2 separate regions of the Homo sapiens genome follow, and region 1 is linked to region 2. The links come from fine-mapping of genetic effects on plasma protein levels. Region 2 holds a variant in brackets. A gene starts in the other region. All regions are shown on their forward strands.

Region 1 (5,374 bases), not on the chromosome of region 2:
AGTTGTCATGTGTCTGGCAGCACCTGGAAAGTGGGAGGGACAGCTGAGATAGGAGTAAGTGCAGAGCAATAGGTCAGCCCTCACCTGCCCACTCTCAGGAACAGGTGGGGATGACTTCGCCAAGATGCTTCAGGAGAAATGATCCTATGGCTTGAAAAAATATAAGTCCTTTTATCATATATTTATTGAAAGCATTTTTTTTTTTTGAGACAGAGTTGCTCTGTTACCCAGGCTGGACAGCAGTGACACGACCTTGGCTCACTGAAACCTCCAACTCAGTCTCCCAAGTAGCTGGGGTTACAGGCGCTCGCCACCATGTCCGGCTAATTTTTGTATTTTTTAGTAGAGACAGGGTTTCACCATGTTGGCCAGGCTGGTCTCGAACTCCTGACCTCAAGTGATCCGCCCGCCTCGGCCTCCCAAAGTGCTGGGATTACAGGCATGAGCCACCGCGCCTGGCCTGAAAGCGATTTTTAACATGGTTGCAAGAATACAGTAAAATCCTGTATTCAGAAGGTGCAGTGACAACCACTGCTAGAAAATGACACGTGGATAGTTGCTGTGATGTTTACTGTTGCTACATTCTGCCACTGGAGGGCAGCATCGCCCACTGTTTTGCACGTCGGTCATTGTTTCCATCTCTAACGGGGTGCGTTCGCTACAGGGTCCTCTTGGAACATATTTGTTTATTTGACAAGAGGTGAAAATATGTTATCCTTAGCAGATATGCAAGTCCCCTTTGTATGCCTCGTGAGATCCTTGGCGTGTGCCCCACCCCGCCCCCGGCAGGCACTCCAATTTTCCTGCAGGCGGATCACTTACTTGTCCAGTTCATCCACGGGGGTGCCTGAGCCCCCCAAGCCACAGTAGCAGCCGTAGTTGTTGTATTCCAAGAAGGGGTCACTCCCCGGGATCACGCACTTGATCATTTTGCGGAACTGCCACACGGCCCGAGGGCTGATGCCGCTGTCGGCGGCGGCCACTGCAAGAAGACATAGCCAGAGTTCAAATCGGTCTGCCAGCACCCCGGGGACACACTGCCTTCCTGCTCCCTCGGGTCCCACGCTGCCTCCCTGACCCCTGCCAGCTGCCTCCTCTGAAGACCGTTGGACCCAGGAACCTGGTAAAGTGAAAGTGGGTAGAGGTTTTTTTTTTTTTTTAATGAAAACTTTATATATATAAAGTTTATATCTTTGTGTGTGTGTATATATATATATATCTTCTTCTTTTTCTTCTTCTTCTTCTTCTGGGACCCTACCGCCTCAGCTAGGATTACAGGCATGTGCCACCCAGCTAGGCCTGATAGTTTTTTTTTTTTTTTTGAGATGGAGTCTTGCTCTGTTGCCCAGGTTGGAGTGCAGTGACACGATTTCAGCTCACTGCAAACTCTGCTTCCCGGGTTCACGCCATTCTCCTGCCTCAGCCTCCCTAGGTCAGATAGTTTTAAACTATCTGCACTGTTTATCCAGTGAATATTTATTGAGCACTTACTATGTGCCAGGCTCTGTCCTAGGAGCTAGAGATACAGCAGTGAACAGATATAATAATAATAATAATAATAATAATAATAATAATAATAATAATAATCTCTAACCTCATGGAGCTTACAACCTAGTGGGAGAGAAAAACAATAAATAATAAATGTGATAAGGCCGGGCACGGTGGCTCATGCCTGTAATCCCAGCACTTTGGGAGGCCGAGGCAGGCGGATCACAAGGTCATGAGATCGAGACCATCCTGGCTAACACGATGAAACCCCGTCTTTATTAAAAATACAAAAAAATTAGCGGGGCGTGGTGGCAGGCGCCTTTAGTCCCAGCTACTGGGGAGGCTGAGGCGGGAGAATGGCGTGAACCCAGCAGGTGGAGCTTGCAGTGAGCCGAGATCGCACCACTGTACTCCAGCCTTGGCGACAAAGCAAGACTCTGTCTCAATAATAATAAGAATAATAATAAATGTGATAAGTAAGGAAACTGGATACTGCATTAGAAAGGGGAAGAATAGAGCAGGATGAGGAGAATCTAAAAGGGAGGTCACCCAGCCTGGCCAACATGGTGAAAACCTGTCTCTACCAAAAAAAACACACAAAAAATTAGCTGGGCATGGTGGTGTGTGCCAGCTACTTGAGAGCTACAAGTCCCAGCTACTTGAGAGGCTGAGGCAAGAGAATTATTTGAACCCAGGAGATGGAGGTTGTAGTGATCTGAGATCACGCCACCGCACTCCAGCCTGGGCGACAGAGTGAGCCCCGTCTCAAAAATAAAATAAAGTAAAATAAAAATAAAAATTAAAATAAAATAAAATAAATGGGAGATTGGCCTAACTACTTAGTTGAGTAAGGTGGGAGGATCACTTGAGCCCACGAGTTGGAAGCTGTGGTGAGCTATGATCATGCCACTGAACTCCAGCCTGGGTGATAGAGCAAGACCCTGTCTGGAAAAAAGAAAATAAAGGCAAGCTTTCTTAGCTCAGGCAATCTGAGTTCAGACTTGCAGGTTGAAAAAGTGCCAGCCTTGAGGGAACCCCAATAGAGGAGCCCTTAAGCCCCACTGGGAACCTCGAATTGAGACTGCGGGGCTGGCCATCCCTGTTTGCTGTGGCCTGTGGCCCCCATTCCAGAGGAGTGAGATCTTAGCTCACTTGGGAGAGAAAGGCGGGTGGAGCCGGGGAGACTTGCCTACCTGTGAGCAGCACAGCTAGCACAAGGAGTTTCATCTTGCAGTCAAGGTGAGAAAAGAACTGAGATGACCAGTCTCAGGTATAGTCTTATAGTCAGTCTCCACACAACCCTGCCCAGATAAGGCTGGAGTGTTTGCTTTGCTCTTGGCTGAGTTTGGGGCTGGCCTTGAATCTGTCTGTTGCAGGAATGACCCTGACGATTTGCCAGCATGGGATCACTGGAAAATATGTTATGCATTTGTCCTTAGCAACTGTTAACCAAAGGGATGGTTTCTGGAGTTTTCAGATCTTACAATCTTGACCCTCATACCCACCACTTTGTACTCAGCCCAGCTTCACGGGCTGGTTGGGGAAAGCAAAGCCGTCAGTTCAGTCGGACGCTGGGATAAGGGAGACAAGAAGGAAGTGCAGCCTGGGCAACATAGAGAGACCTCATCTCTAAAAAAAAAAATGTTAACCAGGTGTGGTGGTGGATTGCACCTGTGATCCCAGCAACTCAGGAGGCTGAGATGGGAGGATCTCTTGAGCCAGGGAGGTCAAGGCTGCAATGAACAGTGATTGAGCCTCTGCAGCAGAGTGAGACCCTATTTCAAAAAAAAAAAAAAAAAAAGAAAGAAAGAAAAAAGATCGCTGCCTGCAGCCTCAATGTCTTATCAAGTGCCTGAATCTGTGCACTGGGTCTGGTTGAATAGTCCCATCAGTCGTGCACCTTGCAGATAAAGAGACAGGTTCAGAGAGTTGCGGTAACTTGCCCAAGGTCACACAGTTGGCAAATGACAAAATAGGGCTCCAGTTTAGATCTGTCTGATTCCAAGGCAGAGGTTTTATTTTTTTCCACCACTCCGCTCTGCAGTGTGGGTTTGTGAGAAAAACCTGGGCTTTGGATTCCAAAGGCCTGAGTCTGAATTATAGAATACTAAAGGGCATTAGAACTGTCATATCAGAGGCCAGGCACGGTGGCTCATGCCTGTAATCCCAGCACTTTGGGAGGCTGAGGCTGGCAGATCACCTGAGGTGGAGAGTTCGAGACCAGCCTGACCAACATGGAATAACCCTGTCTCTACTAAAAACACAAAATTAGCCAGGCATGGTGGCTTATGCCTGTAATCCCAGCTACTCCGGAGGCCGAGGCAGGAGAATGGCTTGAACCCTGGAGGCGGAGGTTGCGGTGAGCTGAGATCACGCCATTGCACTCCAGCCTAGGGAACAAGAGCAAAACTCCATCTCAAAAAAAAACCTGTCACATCACATATCTATTTATTTATATATATTTTTTGAGACGGAGTCTTGCTCTGTTGCCTAGGCTGGAGTGCAATGGCGCGATCTTGGCTCACTGCAAGCTCTGCCTCCCAGGTTCATGCCATTCTCCTGCCTCAGCCTCCCAAGTAGCTGGGACTACAGGCACCCACCACCACGCCCGGTTAATTTTTTTTTTTGTATTTTTAGTAGAGATGGGGTTTCACCGCATTAGCCAGGATGGTCTCGATCTCCTGACCTCGTGATCCACCTGCCTCGGCCTCCCAAAATGCTGGGATTACAGGCGTGAGCCACCGCGCCCGGCCAAATATCTACATAACATTGTTTAGCTGAAATTCACATAACATTAACCACGTTTAAGTAAACAATTCGGGGGCATTTAGTACCTTCACAGTGTTGTGCAACCATCACCTCTATGGGGTTCCAGAACATTTTTATCACTCCAGAAGGAAACCCTGTACCCATTAGCAGTCACACTCCCTCAGCCCCTGGTAACTGCTAATCTGCTTCTCTCTCTCTCTCTCTTTTTTTTTTGAGACAGAGTTTCGCTCTTGTCGCCCAGGCTGGAGTGCAATGGCACGATCTCGGCTTACTGCAACCTCCGCCTCCCAGGTTCAAGCGATTCTCCTGCCTCAGCCTCTCGTGTAGCTGGGAATTACAGGCGCCTGCCAGCATGCCTGGATAATTTTTGTATTTTTAGTAGAGACAAGGTTTCACCATGTTGGTCAGGCTGGTCTCAAACTCTTGACCTCAGGTGATCCACTCCTCAGCCTCCCAAAATGCTGGGATTATAGGCATGAGCCACTGTGCCTGGCCTCTGATCTGCTTCTCTCTATATAGATTTATAATTGGTTAACTTGGTGCTCTTCTGTTCCTATGTCACCTCTACAACAACCCTGTGGGATAAGGAGGGCCTGGTTATTTAATTTATTTATCTGTTTTTTTTTTTTGAGACAAAGTGTCGCTCTGTTTCCCAGACTGATGTGCAGTGACACGATCATAGTTCACTGCAGCCTCAACCTCCTGGGCTCAAGCAATCCTCCCACCTTAGCCTCCCGATTAGTGGGGACTACAGACATGTGTCACCACACCTGGCTAATTTAAAAAAATTTTTTGGGCCAGGCACGGTGGCTCATACCTGTAATCCCAGCACTTGGGGAGACCGAGGCAGGCGGATCACGAGGTCAGGTGATGGAGACCATCCTGGCTAACACAGTGAAACCTTGTCTCTACTAAAGATACAAAAAATAAGCTGGGCATGGTGGCGGGTGCCTGTAATCTCAGCAACTTGGGAGGCTGAGGCAGAAGAATGGCGTGAACCCAGGAGGCAGAGTTTGCAGTGAGCCGAGATCACGCCACTGTACTCCGGCCTGGGCGACACAGCGAGACTCTGTCTCAAAAAAATTTTTGGAGACACGGCGTCTCCCTATGTTGCCCA
Region 2 (5,374 bases):
GCGCGTGCACTGTTTAACGTGGTCTAACTCAGACCAAGGGTGGGGGAACCCCCGCCCGAGGAGGAATCTGTTTTTAAGCTGAGATTAAATCAAGTGCGACCCCTGATTAAACTCAGCCTTTTGCTTAACTGTACTTGTCAATATAACACATAATTGGAAGCTTTTAAGCATATTTGGGACAATTTGGGTGTGAGTCTACCTTTTCAACTGTAAGTTTTACAAGATGTAAATGCAGATCGAGTATTTCTCATGAAAATGTAGCATCCAGGTGGAGATGTGATGGAAGTGCAAATTACACACTAGGTTTGAAAGAGTGTAAGAGTGTAAAATATATCATTAATAATTTTAAAATACTGATTACATGTTGAAATATGTAGATATATTGGGTTAAATAAAATATATTATTAAAATTCTTTTTTCTTTTTTTTTTTTTTTTGAGACGGAGTCTTGCTCTGTCGCCCAGGCTGGAGTGCAGTGGCGAGATCTCAGCTCACTGTAAGCTCCGCCTCCCGGGTTCATGCTATTCTCCTGCCTCCGCCTCCTGAGTAGCTGGGACTACAGGTGCCCGCCACCACACCCGGCTAATTGTTTTGTATTTTTAGTAGAGACGGGGTTTCATCGTGGTTTCATCGTGTTAGCCAGGATGGTCTCATCTCCTGACCTCGTGATCCGCCTGTCTCGGCCCCCTAAAGTGCTGGGATTACAGGCGTGAGCCACCGCGCCAGTCCCTCTTTTTTTTTTTTTTTTTTTTAAGAGACAGGGTCTCACCACCACACCCAGCTAATTTTTGCATTTTTTTTTTGTAGAGAAGAGGGTCTCACTATGTTGCCCAGACTGGTCTCGAACTCCTGGGCTCAAGCGATCCGCCCGCCTCAGCCTCCCAAAGGTGCTGGGATTACAGGCGTGAGCCACCGTGCCCGGCCTCTTTTTACTTTTTCAGTAGGGCTACCAGAAAATTTAAAATCATCCATTTGGCTCGCCTTGTATTTCTTTTGTATTTCTTTGAAACAACGCTGGGTTAGGAACAGTAAGGCATAGCTATATGCAGTTTTCATATTGGCCACCAGGTGGCAGCCTTATACCGGGTGGTTTTCAGACTCTTGGGAGGCCGGTGGGTGGAGCGGGGGACAGACGCAGATTTCACCAGCAAGTGAAAAAGTCCCTTAGCCAGGTTTGTGCTTGCTATTCCATTTTTATATTACTTACGCCTCACATTTATTTGTATGTAGATGGTTGTTGACATAATAAAATACATGTAATTTCCTCTGTGTTTAAGAGCAGTTCTCCCTCACTGAGCTGGGAGTTTCCTTAAGAAACCTGGCTCTTAATTATATAGAGAGAGACTGGGCGCGGTGGCTCTAATTATATATAGAGACACCCAGCGCGGTGGCTCACACCTGTAATCCCAGCACTTTGGGAGGCCGAGGTGGGTGGATCGCCTGAGGTCAGGAGTTCGAGACCAGCTTGACCAACATGGTGAAATACATGTCTCCACTAAAAATACAAAAATTAGCTGGGCATGGTGGCATGCACCTGTAATCCCAGCAACTCAGGAGGCTGAGGCAGGAGAATTGCTTGAACCTGGGAGGAAGAGGTTGCAGTGAGCTGAGATTGCACCACTGCACTCCAGCCTGGGCAACAGAGTAAGACTCCATCTCAAAAAAAGAAAAAAAAATACACACACACACACACAGAGAAAGACAGGGTGACAGGGTCTTGCTCTGTCACCCATGCTGCAGTGCAGTGGTGTGATCATAGCTCACTGCAGCCTCGAACTCCTGGGCTCAAGTGATCCTCATGCCCCAGCCTCCTGAGCAGCACATTACAGGTGCCACCCGCTGCACCCAGCTACTTTTTCTTTTTTTTAAAGGAGTCTCACTATGTTGCCCAGGCTAGTCTCAAACTCCTGGCCTCAAACAATCCACCCGCCTCTGCTTTTTTTTTTTTTTTTGAGACAGTCTCACTCTGTTGCCCAGGCAAGAGTGCAGTGGCACCATCTTGGCTCATTGCAACCTCTTGCCTCCTGGGTTCAAGCAATTCTTGTGCCTCTGCCTCCTGCGTAGCTGGGATTACAGGCATGTGCCACCACGCCTGGCTAATTTTTGTATTTTTGGTAGAGATGGGGGTTTCACCATGTTGGCCAGGCTGGACTCGAACTCCTGACCTCAGATGATCCGCCTGCCTCTGCCTCCCAAAGTGCTGGGATTACAGGTGTGAGCCCCTGCGCCCGGCCGGCTTGATACTATTTTTAATAGTCGACTTTGGATCCCACTCCTGTGCCCAAGCTCTCTCTCATTTTGCTTTTCCCCTCTTCACACATCCATTCTCCAAGTTAATTTCTCTTCATGTCCTTATAATTAAATTCCATCTATAACCTTAATTCCAACCTATTAGACGCATCATCAGAACGGCTGACAGTGCACGGGCAGAGAAAGGTATTAGGAAAGCCAGTGAAGTAGAAAATGCAGGAGGGAGCCCATTCCATTCCTGCCAAGATGCCGGGTTAGTGTGGAATGTTGGCTGCCCCCCAGGA[C/A]CAGCCATGATAGATTTTTTTTAGATGGAGTCTCACTCTGTCACCAGGCTGGAGTGCAGTGGCAAGATCTCGCCTCACTGCAACCTCTGCCTCCTGGGTTCAAGCGATTCTCCTGCCTCAGCCTCCTGAGTAGCTGGGACTACAGACACCCACTACCACACCTGGCTAATTTTTGTATTTTAATAGCAATGGGGTTTCACCATGTTGGCCAGGATGGTCTCAATTTCCTGACCTCATGATCTGCCCTCCTCGGCCCCCAAAAGTGCTAGGATTACAGGCGTAAGCCACCATTCCCAGCCCATGATGGATCTTTAGAGGGAAACATCAAGAGACAGGAAGACCTGGGAGAAGAAGCAAAGATCGGAACCTGTGGTTACGTGGGGAGGCTAGAGCTGTGGCCCAAGGCAGAAGGCTGTGAACTCGGCTGTGCAAGGAAAAAACAGGAAGTGAGCACCAGGGTTCTGCTCTGCTTCCGACCCAGCTCCAGGGCTTTGGGGCAATGGGTGCCTGCCCCTGGCCTGCAGGTGCCCTCAGGATAAAGTGGGTCATGCCGAGGCACTGTACAGGGGAGGAAATGAAAAAGACTTAGAACTATAAAGTGTGTATCAAATTGCAATAAAAAAGGCCAGGTGTGGTGGCTCACACCTGTAATCTCAGCACTTTAGGAAGCCGAGGTAGGTGGATCAGTTGAGGTCAGGAGTTTGAGACCAGCCTGGCCAACATGGTGAAACCCTGTTCTTACTAAAAATACAAAAATTAGCCAGGCATGGTGGTGGACACCTGTAATCCCAGCTATTTGGGAGGCTGAGGAGGGAGAATCACTTGAACTCAGGAGAGGTTGCAGTGAGCAGAAATCATGCCACTGCATTCTAGTCTGAGCATAAGAGCAAGACTCCATCTCAAAAAAAAAAAAAAAAAAAATACAATGAAAGCAGTGTTTGGAGGAAAGCTTGCCTCCTGAAATACTTTTATGAGAAAAGAACACACTGAAAATTACTGAGCTGAGTATCTAAATTTGTGATGTTAAAAAATCACAAATGGATACATACAGATTAGGAAGCCAGCATTACCCTGATACAAAAGCCAGATAAAAACATCAGAAGAAAATTACCAACCAGTATCTCTCATGAATATAGATGCAAAAACCTTCAATAAAGTACTAGCAAACTGAACCCGACAGCATATTAAAAGGATTATACACCATGATGAAGTGGGAGTTATCCCAGCATGCCAAGCGCTATAGGAAATAACAAGAAAATCCATCAGCGTAATATGCATTAATTGAATGAAAGGGGAAAATCACGTGATCACTTAAATTGATGCAGAAAAGGCCTTTGACAAGATCCAACACCCTTCATGATAAAAAGCACTCAGAGGCTGGGCGCGGTGGCTCACGCCTAATCCCAGCACTTGAGGACGCCGAGGCGGGTGGATCACCTGAGGTCAGGAGTTTGAGACCAACCTGACCAACATGGTGAAACCTCCTCTCTACTAAAAATACAAAAAATAGCTGGGTGTGGGGGCTCACGCCTACAATGCCAGCTACTGAAGAGGCTAAAGCAGGAGAATCTCTTGAACCCAGGAGGTGGAGGTTGCAGTGAGCCGAGAAAGCGCCATTGCACTCCAGCCTGGGCAACAAGAGCAAAACTCCATCTCAAAAAAAAAATAATAAAATAAGTTAGCCGGGCATGGTAGCATAGGCCTGTACTCCAAGCTACCTGGGAGGCCGAGACACGAGACTCACTTGAACCTGAGAGATGGATGTTACAGTGAGCTGAGAGCGAACCTCTGCACTCCTGCCTGGGCAAGAAAGCAAGACTCTAAAAAAGACTGTCTAAGAACCCCATGCAGGCTGAGTCAAGGAAACTAAGAAACTAAGCATCTTGGTAAACCAACGAAAATCAAAGGTAAAATCTTAAAAGCATCCAAAGAAAATCCATTAAACCTTTTTAAAAAGCAACAGTAAATCACTGACTTCTCCACGAATCAACAGAAGCCAGGAGACACTGAAACACCTTCCAAGTCCAAATATCCATGTACATACCCACATGCACGTCTCAACAAAAATTATTTTTCAGAGTGACAGGCAACTTTTACAAGATCAAAATGAATAAATATCTTTTCAGACAGTGGAACAACAGGAGAATTTTCTCCAACAAAATTTTCACTGCATTAAAGGAAAGACTAAAAGTTTCCAGAGAGAGAGAGACCGCCAATCCGGACACATCCTGGGAAAGGAACCGGCCCCCTCCATGGCCTGGCCGAAGTGATGGAAGCTGAGCGTGAGGAAGCCTCAAGATCTAACTGCAGAGGCCGAGCGCGGTGGCTCATGCCTATGATCCCAGCACTTTCGGAGGCCGAGGCAGGCAGATCACCTGAGGTCAGGAATTTGAGACCAGTCTGAACAACATAGTGAAACCCCATCTCTACTGAAAATACAACAATTAGCCGGGCGTGGTAGTGAGTGCCTATAATCCCAGTTACTTGAGAGGCTGAGGCAGAAGAATGGCTTGAACCCAGGAGGCAGAGGTTGCCGTGAGCCAAGATGTCACTGCACTCCAGCCTAGGCAGCAGAACAAGACTCTGTCTCAAAAAAAAAAAAAAAAAAAAAAAAAAAAGTCTAACTGCAGGGTCACAGAAAATGCAGAGAGGGAGGCGGGGAAGAGTGTGGGAGCTGAGAGGACAGTGGCGCCAGCTCCCAGCAGTGGATGCAGAAGGTGTGAGGGGCTGGGGTCTGACGGGGGAGGGGGTGATGCTTGCATGCACATTCCTGAGCACTGGACATGGGGGACTAAAGGCAGAGAAAGGCACCTGGAGTGTGTGGGTCAGCAGTGGTCCCAG

Alleles and levels. Positions count from the first base shown, and alleles are read on the strand shown. Strength reflects both the effect of a copy and how common the allele is.
In carriers of allele C in region 2, the plasma level of the protein whose gene starts at base 2,741 in region 1 tends to be higher than with A alone (moderate association).

The links. A credible set is the group of variants that fine-mapping cannot tell apart. PIP is the posterior inclusion probability: the model's chance that the variant is causal. The UK Biobank Pharma Proteomics Project read protein levels with antibody pairs (Olink). The fine-mapping took linkage between variants from a reference panel, not from the people measured, so its PIPs are less certain.
Region 1: it holds the start of PLA2G1B, and the variant in region 2 is the best candidate, but not a certain one, in a credible set for the plasma level of the PLA2G1B protein (UK Biobank, PIP 0.87).

What each region holds. Positions count from the first base shown.
Region 1 is chr12:120,325,039-120,330,412 of GRCh38, forward strand. PLA2G1B (phospholipase A2 group IB) reads right to left here and starts at 2,741. Exons shown (of 4, transcript NM_000928.3): 1 at 2,682-2,741; 2 at 823-982; 3 at 1-23. The coding sequence starts at 2,715. RefSeq lists an enhancer at 638-697.
Region 2 is chr16:75,198,441-75,203,814 of GRCh38, forward strand. No RefSeq gene overlaps it. Among named protein-coding and RNA genes, the nearest start is that of CTRB2, 6.0 kb to the right of the region's middle. RefSeq lists enhancers at 911-1,205, 3,057-3,136. The variant C/A (reference allele first, on the strand shown) is at 2,534.